Regions from separate parts of the Homo sapiens genome. Here region 1 is linked to region 2. A link means that fine-mapping ties the variant in region 2 to the expression of a gene that starts in the linked region. Tissue or cell type: whole blood. Region 2 holds a variant in brackets; the other region holds the start of a gene. All regions are shown on one strand. Distances are between the middles of the regions.

The links. PIP is the estimated chance that this variant, and not a neighbour inherited with it, causes the effect.
Region 1: SCAMP4 starts here. The variant in region 2 is fine-mapped to the expression of SCAMP4 in whole blood (TOPMed, PIP above 0.99).

What each region holds. Positions count from the first base shown.
Region 1 is chr19:1,901,915-1,909,914 of GRCh38, forward strand. SCAMP4 (secretory carrier membrane protein 4) reads left to right here and starts at 3,485. Exons shown (of 7, transcript NM_079834.4): 1 at 3,485-3,525. It overlaps ADAT3 (adenosine deaminase tRNA specific 3), which reads left to right and starts at 3,485. Exons shown (of 2, transcript NM_138422.4): 1 at 3,485-3,525. RefSeq lists enhancers at 2,479-2,538, 2,819-2,878, 3,899-3,988, 6,064-6,875 and silencers at 3,209-3,538, 3,589-3,738.
Region 2 is chr19:1,869,611-1,877,610 of GRCh38, forward strand. ABHD17A (abhydrolase domain containing 17A, depalmitoylase) reads right to left here. Exons shown (of 5, transcript NM_001130111.2): 4 at 7,898-8,000; 5 at 7,200-7,815. The coding sequence ends at 7,590. It also overlaps a transcript of KLF16 not described here. Among named protein-coding and RNA genes, the nearest start is that of KLF16, 10 kb to the left of the region's middle. RefSeq lists enhancers at 2,760-3,054, 2,839-3,162, 3,932-4,647, 5,836-6,536, 6,537-7,236 and 2 more and silencers at 6,259-6,508, 6,889-7,030. The variant C/T (reference allele first, on the strand shown) is at 4,660.

The DNA.
Region 1 (8,000 bases), 32 kb after region 2:
TGGGATTACAGGCGTGAGCCCCCGAGCTTGGTCCTGGTCATTTCTTGACTGCCTGTCACTTGGGGCCACCCAGCCCGCCAGTGTCTGACTTAGGCTTCTGGCTGATTCTCTGCGGCCACTAAGCTCACAATTGGGGAACCGACTCCATGATTTTGCAACATTTCGATGCCGGACCCTGACGCATTACTGTGAGTCGGGAGGGTCACGTTCCGTTTGTTTTTTGAGACGGTCTGGCTGTCACCCAGGCTGGAGTGAAGTGGCATTGGTGTGATCTCAGCTCACTGCAACCTCTGCCTCCTGGGCTCAAGCCATCCTTCTGCCGCAGCCTCCCGGCATGTAGCTGAGACTACAGGCGCCACCATTCCCAGCTATGTTGTTTTTTTTTTTTTAAAGAAAGAGACAAGGTCTCGCTGTGTTGCCCAGGGCAATTTCAAAATTCCTAGACTCAAGCAATCCCTCCGCCTCGGCCTCCCAAAGTCCTGGGATTACACTGGGATTACAGGTGTGAGCCAGCACACCGGCTGTGGGCCACATTACTTTTGAAAAGTTCTGGATAAAGGCCGGGCGCGGTGGCTCATGCCTGTAATCCCAGCACTTTGGGAGGCCGAGGCGGGCGGATCACGAGGTCAACAGATCGAGACCATCCTGGCGAACATGGTGAAACCCCCGTCTCTACTAAAAATACAAAAAAATTTGCGGGGCGTGGTGGTGGGCGCCTGTAGTCCCAGCTACTCGGGAGGCTGAGGCAGGAGAATGGCGTGAATCCGGGAGGTGGAGCTTGCAGGGAGGTGGAGCTTGCAGTGAGCTGAGATCGCGCCACTGCACTCCAGCCTGGGCGACAGAGTGAGACTCCTTCTCAAAAAAAAAAAAAAAAAAAAAAGAAAGAAAAAGAAAAGTTCTGGATAAAGAACAATGTCAATTAAAAAAGGGGTCCCATCAGTAGAGGCTGAAATCATGACTGAAACTAGCTTAAAGCCCAAAGCAAAACAAAAACCCGAAAGAAGGCCAGGCATGGTGGCTCGCACTATCCCAGCATTTTGGGAGGCTGAGGCAGGTAGATCACCAGAGGTCAGGAGTTTGAGACCAGCCTGGCCAACATGGTGTACTAAAAAATACAAAAATTAGCCAGCTGGAGCGCAGTGGCGCAATCATAGCTCACTTCAGCCTTGACCTTCTGGACTCCAGTGATCCTCCCACCTCGGCCTCCTGAGTAGCTGTCCCAGCTGTCCCACTTACTCAGTGCCCCTCCGGACCCAGCAATTCTTTTTTTTTTTTTTTTTGCAGAGATGGCAGCATGTCTCAAACTCCTGGCCTCAGGCAAACCTCATGTGTCAGCCTCCCAAAGTGCTGGAATTACAGGCACGAGCCACCATGCCTGGCCTAGATTCATTTTTTTAGATGCAGAGAATCTGGGCTTTGGATTTAATGACTTACCAAATAAAGGCTGTCTTTTTTTTTTTTAAAACAAATCAGCAAAACAGGGGCTCTTGGCTAGTTTGCATGAGGCATCCAGGGATGGAGAGATGTGTATTTAAGCTAAAAAAAGAAAAAGTGAAACTCACAGCAGTCTGAGTTTTTATTCAGAAAAGGAAAAAAGAAAGCAACTGAGAGCGAAATAGTTTCCTGGAATGCTGTTTTTTTTTTTTTTTTTTTTTTTTTTTTTTTTTGAGATGGAGTCTCACTCTGTCGCCCAGGCAACAGAGTGCAATGGTGCGATCTCAGCTCATCGCAACCTTCGTCTCCCGGGTTCAAGTGATTCTCCTGCCTCAGCCTTCCCAGCAGCTGGGATTAAAGGCCCCTGCCACCATGCCTGGCTAATTTTTGTATTTTTAGTGGAGATGGGGTTTCGCCATGTTGGCCAGGCTGGTCTCGAACCCCTGACCTCAGGTGATCCACCCACCTTGGCCTCTCAAAGTGCTGGGAGTACAGGCATGAGCCACCGCATCCGACCTTGAAATGCACTTTCTTTGAAACACGTCCTCCCCTTTCTCACCATAAACTCCCTCACACTCTGCAGGTTTACCTAACTGTATGCATCTAATTATGTGATTACCTAAAAGTTCCAGGAACAGGCTGGGCACGGTGGCTCACGCCTGTAATCTCAGCACTTTGGGAGGCCGAGGCGGGCAGATCACCTGAAGTCAGGAGTTTGAGACCAGCCTGACCAACATGGAGAAACCCCATCTCTATTAAAAATACAAAATTAGCCAGGTGTGGTGGCGTGTGCCTGTAATCCCAGCTACTCGGGAGGCTGAGGCAGGAGAATCACTTGAATCTGGGAGGTGGAGGTTGCGGTGAGCTGAGATCGTGCTGCTGCACTCCAGCCTCGGTGACAAGAGCGAGACTGTCTCGAAAAAAAAGAAAAAAGAAAGAACGTTTTAGAGCTAATCTGGAGACAGGCCAAGCACGGAGACCCACCTGCAAAATCCCAGAGATTTCCTCAAGGTGGTCTGCAACCCGGCCCTTATTAGGATGAGGCCAGCCTGCGCTTTTAAGCCACCAAAATTCATGAACACACAGAGCTTATAATCAGCACCTCCCCTGCACACCCACCATTCCCAGTTCCCCTTTTTTAGCCCCTCACCCCAGCCTCAAGTTTGAAGGGGTTTCTGGAGGCCTAAACCAGCTGCCTCCCTGCTGCGAACTCTGAAAGGAAGTCACCTTCCTTTCACTGCACTTTTTCCTCCTTACTGGTTTGTCAAGACTCTGGCATCGGAGCCTGAGCTGGTTACAGCCAGGCACTGTCAAGCTGTTGGGGGAGGGGATGACAAATTCCCTCCCGTTGAGAACCACTTGGTTAAACCTGTCCAACTGGAAGGAGTAACAAATTGCTCATAAAATATGCATGTTTTGGTGAAACCCCTTCTCTACTAAAAGTACAAAAACTAGCCAGAAATCGCTTGAACCCAGGAGGTGGAGGTTGCAGTGAGCCTAGCACTGCACTCCAGCCTGGGTGACAGACTGAGGCTACGTCTCAAAAAAAAAAAAAAAAATGTGCTTGTTTGGCCCAGGAGAGGCAAGAGGTCTTCTTCACCTACGTTACTGGTGAGAAAACTCAAACCTGAGGGCGGCCCACGCCGGAGTGCAGTAACAGGCAGAACTGGAACCTGGCCCCATCCCGGACTCAGGGGACGGGTGTCATATACCCCCTCTGCCTCATCCTTCCCACTCTGCTAACCTTCCAAAGATCCCCCGGGTTCCGAGTTTTCCCTGGCCGCTTGATGGGATTCGAACCTGCAAACTCAGCGCTCGCCCAGCGCAGCGGCCCCGCCTCTCCTCCCCTCCCGCCGCCCGGAGGTCATGTGAGCGCAGTGCCGGAGCGGGGCGGGGCGAGGCGGCGGCGCGCAGTGCCTACTAGCAATTGTAGTCCTTGCCCCACCTTGGCCTGGCGAAGATCCCGCCCCTGGAACTACGCTCCCGTCGTGCTCCGCGGCTCCAGGCGGAGACGAGGCGGGGTGAGGTGGGTTGGGCCGGGCCGGTTGCTAAGACTTGGCGAAGCGCTGCGCTCGCGCCCGGATCCCTCAGGTAAGCGCGCGGCCCCGAGGTCTCGGGTTCTCCAGGCTCAGACTTCCCCAGAGGGGGAGTAGGGGCTGACATGGGGGGTCTCGGCGGTGAGGGGCGCCGGCCGTTTGTGGGGAGAAAACGGGGGGCCCAGGCCAGCCTCGCGCGCGTCTCGGGCGGGCCGGTGGGCGACGCGGGGAGGCGGCGCGAATGCGCGTGCGCGCGCGCGCGCGGCGCTGGCCTGGGGGAAGCCTCAGGACCGCGCTCCCCCGGGCCTAGCGCCTTTCTGCGCGTGTGCGCCCTTATGGTCGGTGCGGGAGACCCCGTATCCTCCAGCTGCTTCCGGTGGCCCTTCCTCAGGTCATGTCCCGCAGTCCCCTGCCTCTGAACCGCGCTCTCGCGAGTTTCCGTAGCCTTCGCGTCCTTCCTCCCCAGCTCTGATTCGCCTTTATGTGGAGATTCCCCTAGGCCTTGGTACATCCCCAGAATTGACCATCGTTCCTCATCGTTACCTAGAGTATGAGTTTTTCAGGTTTTTGTATCACAGGCCCCCAGTTATCTCCCACACACTACCCCGAGGACCGAGGTTCCCCGCTGTCTTGCAGAGAAGGCCTCCTTGTAGGGTGGCCAGAAACAGAGGATCGACTCCGTGGAAACAAGGACGGCTGGGTGCAGTTCCTCACCCTATAACCCCAGCACTTTGGGAGGCCAAGGCGAGTGGATCACCTGAGGTCCGGAGTTCGAGACCAGCCTGTCTAACATGGTGAAACTCCATCTCTGCCAAAAATACAAAAATTAGCTGGGCGTGGTGTCACGCGCCTGTAAAACCAGCTACTGGGGAGGCCAAGGCAGGAGAATCGCTTGGACTTGGGAGGTGGAGGTTGCAGTGAGCCAAGATGGCACCATTGTACTCCAGGCTGAGCAAGCTAGCAAGACTCACTCTCCAAAAAAAAGAAAAAAAGATTTTTTTTTAATAAGCCAGGCATGGTGACACATGTCTGTGGTCCCAGCTACTTGGGAGGCTGAGGCAGGAGGATTGCTTGAGCCCCGGAGGTTGAGGCTGCAGTGAACTGTGATGGCACTACTGCATTCCAGCCTGGGCAACAGAGCGAGACCCTGTCTCTAAATAAATAAATAAAATACATACGTGTAGCGCCGGCCGTGGTGGCTCACGCCTGTAATCCTAGCACTTTGGGAGGCCAAGGCGGGTGGATCACGAGATCAGGAGATCAAGACCATCCTGGCTAACACGGTGAAACCCTGTCTCTACTAAAAATAAAAAAAAGCCAGGCATGGTGGTGGACGCCTGTGGTCCCGGCTACTCCCAAAGGAGGCTGAGGCAGGAAAATGGTGTGAACTCAGGAGGCAGAGCTTGCAGTGAGCCAGGATCGTGCCACTGCACTCCAGCCTGGGCGACAGAGTGAGACTCCGTCTCAAAAAAAAAAAAAAATTGTGTGTGTGTGTGTGTGTGTGTAAAGAAACAAGCCCCAGGCTGGGCGCAGTGGCTCACGCCTGTAATCCCAGCACTTTGGGGGGCCTAGGCAGGTATATCACAAGGTCAGGAGTTCGAGAGCAGCCTGACCAATATGGTGAAATCCCACCTCTACTAAAAATATAAAAAATTAGCCAGGCATAGTGGTGCACATCTGTTGTCCCAGCTGCTTGGGAGGCTAAGGCAGGAGAATTGCTTGAACCAGGGAGGCAGAGGTTGCAGTGAGCCAGGATCGCGCCACTGCCCTCCAGCCTGGGGGACAGAGTGAGACTGTCCCAAAAAAAAAAAAGCCCCCACGCAGACTATTGGTGTGCCCTGGAACTGAGCATTAGCTGTTCCCTCTCCGAGTTCTCTCCCCTACTTCCCCAGCCTTCCAGGCTGGGCTGTGGGTCACTGCCTCCGAGGAGCCCTCCTGGATTCTGCTGAAGATGGTCAGGCCCCTCCATCCCCCCATTTTCTCTTATGTACCTGACAGCCCTGCCTTAAAAAAAAAAAAAAGGTAGAGCAGGAATTCCCATTTCACAGGGGTGGAAGCCGAGGCTTGGAGGAGTCAGGACTGGTGCCTGAGTTCTCGCAGTCAGGAATTGACCGCGCTGGGCTGAACGCCTCTAGGGCAGGTTGGGGACTGGGTGTGTTTTCTGGGTGGACATACCCAGGTCCCGGCGCGGACCTTGGCCTCCTCATCTGTGGGCTTAGATAAAGGCCTCCCAGCCTCCTGTTCACCAGGGTTGTCACCACGCAGGGTCTGACTCACCTGCCTGGAGCTATGCCGGTTCCCAGCCCAGGCTGGCGGCCGTGTTCTGCTGGGACCTGGGACCTGGGCTGCCTGCCCTCCTGAGGGGTCCCAGTGGTCGGTCGCCTGCCTTCTGGGTGGGTGTGGTAGAGGGAGGGTCAGGTGGCCCCCTGCTGTTGGGGGGCAGTCGCTGTGGGAGTGAGTCGTCCCCCCGGGCCATAGCAGGTAGGTAGGAGGTGCTCTGGCAGTTGAGGCCGCCCTGGCCTGGGACAGTCAATCAGCCTGAACACTGTGCCTGTTCCGGGATTTTGACCTGCCCTCCAAGGGCGCGGCGGGCCCAGCCTGCAGTGTCCCGGCAGCTGCCTCCTCTCTGGGTCGTTTGTTTTTCATCAGACAGAGGTTGTACTCTTGGAGGGACAAGCGAGGCTGTGTTTGTCTTTTACCCTGGAGACAGTGGAGTGTTTGTGGCCTAGCAGGGCCGTGCGGGCCTCTCGGTCCTGGTCGCGCGTGGTGTGCGTTTTGGGAGGGCCCAGCGAGTCGGCTGCTATGGGCCCCACCTGGCACGGGGCCTCGGGCAGCGGCAGCACCTGGCGCTGCCTCCGCGCTTCCTGCTCCCGGCTCCCACTGCATCTCCGGTTCTGTGCTTTGTTGAACGCGTGAGCTTCGGGCAGCGCTGGGGCCGCTTCAGCGTGACCTCCAAGGCCACTGGCCTGGAGTTCCACTGGCTGCTGGTCCCCCATCTGTGGGGCGCCCCGGCGGCTGAGGCGTGGACCAGGCAGTGCATGTCGAGGAGTAGCACCCACAGCTGCGCGGCTGCGAAATGATCCAGAGACACATCCCTGTCTGCGGGAGGAGCCGTCCATACCAGCGGGGATGTGTAGTCCAGGCTGGCAGTTCAGGATCACCCGGCTGGAGTCATTTTAAGATCATCTGCGGCTTAGCCCCAGCACCATCTGAGGCAGTACTGTCTGCTAGAAATAACTGTGAGCACACAGGTAGTAAGGTTTTTAGGATTTTATTATTATTTATTTATTTGAAAAAAGGAACAGGGTCTCTCTATCTTGCCCACGTTGGTCTCAAACTCCTGTGCTTAAGTGATCCTCTCGCCTTGGTCTCCTGAGTAGCTGGGACTACATGTGCACACCACCGTGCCCAACTAATTTATACTTTTAAGCAATGTGGGCTGGGCACGGTGGCTCACACCTGTAATCCCAGCACTTTGGGAGGCTGAGGCAGGTGGATCACCTGAGGTCAGGAGTTCCAAGACCAGCCTGGCCAACATGGTGGAACCCCGTCTCTACTGAAAATACAAAAATTAGCCGGGCGTGGTGGCATGTGCCTGTATTCCCAGCTACTAGGGGGGCTGAGGCAGGAGAATCGCTTGAACCTGGGAAGTGGAGGTTGCAGTGAGCTGAGATCATGCCACTGCACTCCAGCCTGGGCAACAGAGTGAGACTCTGTCTGAAAAAAAAAAAAATGTGGGCTGGGCATGGTGGCTTACGCCTGTAATCCAACCTCAGGCCTGCGGTGCGAGTCTGTGGGGGCAGATGCAGGTGGGGGAAGGCTGGCCAGCTGAGACTGTGGTTTGGGGGTGTTCAGGTGGGGTGGATGCCAGAGATGTGGGAGCCAGAGGCGCTGTCCCCCAGGGCCCTGTGAGCAGTCCCTGCAGGCTGGCTGTCCCCACGCCTGCCTCTCTGCTGTGCTGTCTGCCCGCCTAGGGCAGGCTCCCTTCTAATGGGCGGATCCCGAGAGCTGGGGGCCCCACCAGCCCTTCCTCTCCAGTGGAGTGGCCCTACTGCCTCATGTCCACCTGTGCCAGCAGCAGGGATGGTAATGGCTCTACTATCTCCTGTCCTCACCTGTGCCAGCAGCAGGGATGGTAACGGCTTTACTGCCTCCCGTCCTCACCTGTGCCAGTGGCTGGGATGTCTTCACCTGTGCCAGCAGCAGGGATGTCCTCACCTGTGCCAGCGGCAGGGATGGTAACAGTGCTGGTGATGTCAGGCCGGGAGGTTCTCACCCGAGAGCCGCCTTGGCACACTGCCCGGCAGTCAGGGATGTTAGCAGGAGCCCCGGGAGTGATCCCAGCTCTTCCCGCAGCCCCACTCCAGCCAGGGCCTCCTCTGTGACTGAGTAAGCAGGGACACCCCAGTGGCTGCCTGCTCCACCCGACAGCCAGGGCCCACCACAGCTGCAGGAATGTGGTCAAGGGATGGGAAGTCGGGCCCACCAGGGGAGGGGCTGCGCTCCGGGGCTTACGTTTCGTGGCTTGTC
Region 2 (8,000 bases):
TTTTATTATTGTCTTTAAGATGAGATTTCACTGTTGCCCAGGCTGGAGTGCAGTGGAGCAATCATAGCTTACTGCAGCCTCTACCTCCTGGGCTCCAGTGATCCTCACACCTCAGCTTCCCAAGTAACTGGAACCACAGGTGCACACCGCCACGCCCGGCTAAATTTTTTAAATTTCATTTTCTAGAGATAGGGTCTTACTTTTGCTGTCCAGGCTGATCTCCAACTTCTGGGCTCAAACAATCCTCCTGCTTTGGCCTCCCAAAGTGCTAGGACTACAGGCGTGAGCCACCACACCCAACCCAAGATAAATACTTTTTCTTTTTTTTTTTTTTTTTTTTTGAGACGGAGTCTCCCTCTGTCGCCAGGCTGGAGTACAGTGGTGCAATCTCGGCTCACTGCAACCTCTGACTCTCTGGTTCAAGTGATTCTCCTGCCTCAGCCTCCTGAGTAGCTGGGATTACAGGCACGTGCCACCAAACCCGGCTAATTTTGTATTTTTAGTAGAGACGGGGTTTCTCCACATTGGCCAGGCTGGTCTCGAACTGCTGACCTCATGATCTGCCCGCCTCGGCCTCCCAAAGTGCTGGGATTACAGGCGTGAGCCACCACACCCGGCCAAAACTTACTTTTTAAACAAATATGAAAAGTGGATGTGGGGGTGACTGGACTGAATAATAATAATGACAATGGCAGCACGGCAGCAGCTCACATTTGCAGCACTGCTTGGAGTTGCTTTAAAGTCCACTCCTAGAAAGGCACCCAGGAAATACTCCTAAGGGCCAGGGATGGTGGCTCATGACTGTAATCCCAGCACTTTGGAAGGCCAAGGCGGGAGAATCGCTTAAGGCCAGGAGTTCGAGACCAGCCTGGGCAACAAAGCAAGACTGCATTTCTACACAAAATACAATTAGCCAAGTGTGGTGACGTGTGCCTGTCGTCCCAGGTAATTGGGAGGCTGAGGTGGAAAGATCACTCGAGCCTAGGACTGGGAGGTTGGGGCTGCAGGGAGCCATGATCACACCACTACACTCCAGCCCAGGTAACAGGGTGACAGTCTGACCCAAAAAAAAAGAAAGAAAAAAAGAAAGATTCCTGATTCCTGGCCTGGCGTGGTGGCTCACGCCTTTAATCCCAGCACTTTGGGAGGCAGAGGCGGGCAGGTCACCTGAGGTCAGGAGTTTCAGACCAGCTTGGCCAACATGGTGAAACCCCGTCTCTACTAAAAATACAAAAATTAACCAGGCGTGGTGGCACGCGCCCGTAATCCCAGCTACTCGGGAGGCTGAGGCAGGAGAATCACTTGAACCCAGGAGGTGGAGATTGCTGTAAGCCAAGATTGCGCCACTGCACTCCGGCCTGGGCCACAGAGTGAGACTCTGTCTCAAAAAAAAGAAAAAAGAAAGATCCGTAAGGAAAGAGTGCACAGGGTTGTGCACTGTACTGCTGGTAACAGAAAAAACAGGGAATGGACCCCAGTATCAGCGGCGGGGTCACAGAGACCCTGAGGCTGCTGGAGAATCAGGCAGAACCGTCAGTCCTGCTGCAGAGCCTCACAGATGGGGTGGCAAAAGCAAGCTTCACAGTAAAGCCTGTGCCCCAGACATGGCCTCAATTCTCCGTGTGTTGTCACCTGTACCCACAGGCTGTTTATTCACGGATGACCTTTGCCAACCTGTGGAAGCCACCTCCGGACAGGCCTGCAGGGACCCAGGGCCGTAGCAGGAGGGACTGGACGGGCTGCGGAGGTGGCCATGAGGCCTGCAGAGGACGCACTCAGCGGTCTGTGCCACCCATTTGAGTATCTGACGGTGTGACCCTGACCTCTCCCGGTGATCCTGATTGTCAACAAAACCCTAAAGTCCCCACCCCCCCGGGGCTGGCGCTCCTGCAGGACACTGTGGTCTGGTGATAGCCTTTATTTACATTACTGCAGGTGTTGCATTATGTGACCAAAACGCCGACCCCCAAAGCCACTCAGGGTATATTTCTGTGTTAAGGCGTTAAATCACTTACCATGGTCCAGTCCAGGGGGGCCACCACGCACGGTGGGGGGCGGGGGGGCAGCTGCAAGCTCCTGGGGGACAGAGGACAAGGTTCCACCAGCCAGGTGGGAAGGTGGGGCAGCAGCTGCCACCCTCCAACCGGAGGACACAGCGAGGTCACCCTGCTGGCCGACTGCAAGGAAGCCCCTGCGTGGGGTCCTGCAGGGAGCATCTCTGGGGTCCACGGCATCCATGCTAGGAGCTGCTTCAGGGACACCAAGGCCTCCTCCATCCTGCACAGGGTGGGCAGCAGGGGCAGGATCCGGCTGGCATTTCCTTTCCCGTGCGAATCCCCCAACCCCTGCACCCCCAGCCCCTCCTCAGCAGGACTGCAGGGCCAGGGCCGGGGATTTTATCTGCACAGAGTCGGGAGGGGACCAGGACCCCCAGGCACCCCGCTTCCTTGGCCTCCCAAAGATGATGAAAAGCTTCCATAAGAGCTTTCCCCCTTGAACAGGGTCAGACAGGTGGCGGTGGTTTTTCGTTGTTTTTTTAAGATGGAGTCTTGCTGTGTTGCCCAGGCTGGAGTGCAGTGGTGCAATCTTGGCTCACTGCAACCTCCGCCCCCTGGGTTCAAGCGATTCTCCTGCCTCAGCCTCCCGAGTAGCTGGGACTACAGGCGCCCGCCACCATGCCAGCTAATTTTTGTACTTTTTTAGTAGAGACAGGGTTTCACCATGTTGGTCAGGCTGGTCTCGACCTCCTGACCTCAGGTCATCCACCGCCTCGGCCTCCCAGAGTGCTGGCATTACAGGCGTGAGCCACCGCGCCCAGCCTAGTGGTGGGGTTTCAGGGCACTCTGCTAACAGCCACAGGCTTCATTCACATAAAGCACCCCGCCTGGGCCTGTTCCCTCCGTGAGGCTATTGGGGAGGGCGGGTCCCAGAGTCGCGCTCTTATCCTCCACGGACACACACACTGCCTGTTCTGAGCTCCACTTCCGGCTGGGTGCTGGGGAGAGAATAGGCTCTGGTCTGGCGGGAGGTGCTCGCTGTCTGGCCGGGCAGATGTGTGTCCCGGGACCTTATTTCTGAGCCACCTGTGCTGTCGTGGCTGGGAGACGCCGAGTGCCGAGGGAGCGCGGGCCTGGCCGGGGTCTCGGCTACTTCTCTCGGTGGGGAAGCAGGGACAGTCACCCCAGCAGCCCAGAATCGTTGTGAAGATCGACGTGGCCCGTGGCCGGAGCCCGGAACCGGGAGGGAAGTGGGACCAGGGGCTTGTGCTGGCCCCTGGGCCGCTCTGATACCAGTTGGGCGCCCACTGGATGGACTCCCAGTTAACAAGGCGGCCCTGCACTCCCACCTTGATCCTGACACCCGGACTCAGAGGTGGACAGGCAGGTGCCTGCCATAGGGGAGGAAAGAGGAGGCGCCTGCTCCCAGAGGCCCCACCTCAGGTCACGGCCACCACAGGCCAAGAGGACAGAATCACAGCCAAGCAGGGATGGTCTCCATCCTCTTCCAGAACCCCAGAGGGCCCTCAGGTCATGCAGAACAGAGCCAGCCGGGTGGGTCCCACCAGCTTGGCATTAATGGGACGACGGATGAATGCAGCCACAGCGTCATAAGAGCTTGGTCAGCCGCCCACACACACATGCTGGGACCCCACGAATGCCAGTCGGGGCTGACAGGCCACTGGTCCCCTGGGGAGCAGCTGGAGGGTGCACAGCCCTGGGCACCGCCCCAGACCTGACCCACTGGAAGGGCCTAGCCCACATCTCAGGCAAGCCTCTGCCACACCCACAGCCATGCTCCAGCCACTGGCCCTGGGGAGGGTCTGCCCTCCCCCCGGGCTCCGGGTACCAGAGTGGGCCTAGGCCATAGGGTCACCTGGCTGGTGTCTGTCCCGTCACCCAGGGCCCCGTGCTGGGGTGTACCAGGAGCAGGTGACACAGGGTGGACCAGAGACTCAGCCCCCAGGCGCCCTACCCGGGAGAACGCTGTTGCAGGGCTTGAACAAGTGTGTCCTGGAAAATCCACAAAATGGAGAACGGGAAGTTGGCCCTACTCCCAGGTGGCCTGGCCCCGGGCCATACCAAGTGGGAGGTGGGGAGAGCGCGCGTCCTGGAATAGAGTGCTGGCCTCCCCTGTCGCCACCCCTGCGGGGTCCTCCCGGGTCCCAAGAGCAGGGGGTGGTGGGGAGAGGCCGAGGGTGGAAGTTGGCCTGACAGCCTGGAGCCTGAAGGCCCGGACTCGGTTTACCCCATGTGAGAGGGACAGGCAGAGGGAACACAGTGTACGCTGAAGGCGTCTGGGAGCCCTGCCGAAGCCTCGGTGCTGAGTTCGCAGCAGCTTGAGAATGGGGCTGCCTGAAACCAAGGCCAGCATCGCGCACCGTGAATATCCACAGCCCGCAGGGAGGGAGGGGCGGCCCCAAATACTTCGATTTCCAAAATCCTCTTCATCACAGTGTCTTGTGGAACTAGTACCACATGGATCAGATGAAGTCGTCAACTATTTTAAGATGAGAATTTTATCTCAGTTTGATCTGTAAATCTAAGAATCTAAGCAATCTCAATGTTTTCAAAGAAGATCACGGTGGGAGAACCAGATAAACTTGCCTGCTGTTCAGGAGAAAAAAGAAACGTGCAAAATAATGCAAGGAGGAGGGGCCTC[C/T]GGACATGAGGTCAGGAAGACAATGGGGTTCTGGAAAACTGGGATAAGAGTCTAGGGACAGACCCAAATCTACTTGCCATAAAGACAGCACTTCAGTGGGGAAAAGAATGCTTTTTTGGGAAATAAAGTTGGGACAATTTGTGGAAAAAAAGTTTTGCTTCCTACCTTACTCCTTACCAGGAATACTTTCTAAAATTAGACATAAGCATTTAAATATATGGGGAAAAAAAAACCCCACTACATTTCTAGAAGAAAATCTCAAATGTTTTATGATCTTACAGCGGAGAAGATATTCCTGAGATGACACAAAAATGCAGGAGCCGTAAAGAGAAAAAAACTAATGACCAGTAACAATTTTAGATGCTTAGCTTAAAGAAAAAAATACAAACAAAGTCAAAGACTAATGACAGATAGAAAAAAGAAACACTTCCGGGTCAGCCGAGAAATGGTATTCAGCAATAAATGTGTCAGAGTCCCAAAAAAAAAAAAAAAAAAAAAAAAAAAAAAACACTTCTACTAGACAGAAAGCGAATTTTCTTAATCTGTAAAGTGCACCTAGAAACCACCACCATCCACCCAACAGAAAAATGAGCCAAGAAGATAAAATACAAATGGCTTTTAAATAGTCAAACGTTTATAATAAACATATTTTCCAATCTCGAAACGACTGTCAGTGGTAACAATGATCAACGTAACATAGATGTAACAGGAACATCACGACGTTCGACTATACTTACAGGAAACACAAGCTACAGTGAAATACTATCTCACGCCTACCAGGTCTGCAAAATCCAGCTTGGGCAAGGGTGTCGCCGGCCCCCTCTTATGCTGGTGGGGGAGGGCGATTTGGTACCACCCCTTTAGGGGCCTAAATACAGCCCTCGCACTTCTGCACCAAGGAATTTAACCTAAGAAAATAGTCCGACTTGGGCAAAAAACGGTTTGTACAAGCAATAGTCAAGCTAGCATTGTTCGTTATAAAAGACAGCAAAAACCCTAAATTTCTACAGGAAAGGGGATAAAGTCTGGTGCTATAAAACTCCGTTTCCGGAGGAATCCCACCTGTATCTGAATGCATGGGGCGCTCTCCGAGCTACGTTAAGTATAAGAGCCCCAAGTAAAGTAACTGACCTTTTGCAGAAACGCACGTAGATGTTCCTGCATAGACTTTCTTTGCAGACCCGTAAGAAACGGGTTTCCCTCTGCCCCAGGGGAGAACTGGGCCTTGGAGGTTAGGACTGGGAAAAACACATCAAGTCTTCACCAAATACCCTTTCAGGCTCCTTGAATTTTCTACTCTGTGCACCTGAACACACTTTTGTTCTCTTGCAAGCAGTTGCTTTGCACTGGAGGCAATGAAGACACGGCGGAGTCCCAGCTCGCAGGGAGCTCAGGTTCTGACGGCGTCAGAGGACAACACGCTCTGGACCAGCGCAGCGCCCAAGGGTCAGCGGCAGCAGCGAGCAGGGGGCACGGGATGCGGGGAGGCTCTTCGGGAGGCATGAAAGGCAGACGTGTTCCGAAACGTGAGCCGCGCTGAGGGGCACGGCGCACGACCGGGGACAGAAGGAAGACACTGCGGTCGCAAAGCCCTGGCCGTGCAAAGGCCCCGTGGTCAGCCAGGAGCCCAGGCGTCCCCTGCTCTAGCGAGGTTTCCTTCCGAACGTCCCGTAGCACCGCTTACCATGGAACGGCGGGCGCTGCCTCGCAGCCCCGACCCCGCGGCGGCCCCCACGGGCCTACGAGGAACTCGAGGCCGAGGGAAGGAGTGAGAGCGGCCGGAAAGGGGCAGGGCCGAGCCGGACCGGTACCTGGCTGGGTCCCAGCGGCCGCCACTTACCACCGAGGCCGCCTCTTCGTCCACAGCCTGACGCCAGCCACCGCCGCCGCCGTCTCCACTGCCGCACGCACGCCGCCACTTCCGCTTCCGTCCGTGCTGCGGCCCCGCACGTGACGCAGCGCCTTCTCGCGCCCAGACTGAAGCACCGCCCCCCCTTAAAGGGGCCGCGGACTAGAGCTAGCTGGATGCAGCTTGGGATCCCGGCCTCGCCACCGCCTGGTCGCGCGACACAGGCTGAACCCTGCCCAACCCTAAGGTGGACAACAGGCCACCGGTTCCCGAGTCCTCCCGGTCCTAAGCCTTCTGCCCTAGAGATCGTAGGAACTCTTCTCGTGATCCCAGCTCCAGTGTCGGCTCCCTCTTCCAGGGGAGACCCTCGGGGCCCAAGCACCTGCCACCGCCCTCTGCTGGACCCCAGCTTCGCCATCTACGAAGGAAGCGGCCTGTCCGAGCTCTGAGGTCCGTCAAGCGCGGCACCTCAGGACCCAGAGTGCGCTGTCCTGGCCCCTCTGCAGTAGGACTGACGGGAAGCTGTCGAGGGGGCAGTCCCGCGATGGCAGCAGGGCCCCCACGCCTGGCGTCCTCATCGCGCCCACCCAGCAGGGCTCACCAGCCTCCCTAGGAAGCAGGCAGGGGTCCTGGGCTCAAACGCTGCCCCACCCATCATCGCCCAGGCAACCAGCTCCCTAAGGGCTCCCCGGACTAGACAGAGACCCACCCCACTTCCGCAGAGTAAAACCTATAAGGGGGTCCGTGCCGATCTCTCCTAGGGACTCAGGGACGAAACCTGGGAACCCCGGCCCCCTTTCGAGCTCGCTGAGCGCTCGAGAGAGTGAGCAGAGCCATGAAAGGAAGGAGAGCAGCCCTAAAATTTTAAATCTTTAATTTCCGTTTTCACGTATTTTCTTCTTGCTTCCAAAAGGAAAGGAGTGCGTAGCTCTGTTGCCTGTACATCGTCCACAGCCCCTGGGTCGGGGCGGGGTCCCCTGGGCCGCCCGGGGGGTCCACATGCAGCCCCTGGGTGGGGGCCGGCGCGGGGTGAGGTCCGGGGGCCGCCTTATTGCTGAGGTCCGGCCGGTTGGGGCCGCCGCTAGGCGCGCTGGCTGGGCAGCTCCTGGGAGATGAAGCGACGCAGGCGCTCCAGGTACTGGCTGTAGAGCTCGATGTCGTTGTGCCCGGCGCCCTCCACCCACAGCGGCTCCACCGCCTTGGGGCAGCGCTCGTAGAGCGCCAGCCCGTGCGAGAAGTCGATCACCTCGTCCTCCGTGCCGTGGATGATGAGCACGGGAGACGTGATCTTGGACACCTTCTCGATGCTGCGGGAGGGTCGTGGAGCCGGTGAGACTTCGCGCCCGGCCCGGGCCCCGCCCCGCCCCCGTCCCCGCCCGGGCCGCTCACTTAGGGAAGGCGTCGAAGCAGTAGGTCTTCTTGGTGTCGGGGAAGGCGACGCGCATGCCCGAGGTGAGCGGCGAGTGCAGCACCACCGCGGCACACTCGTAGC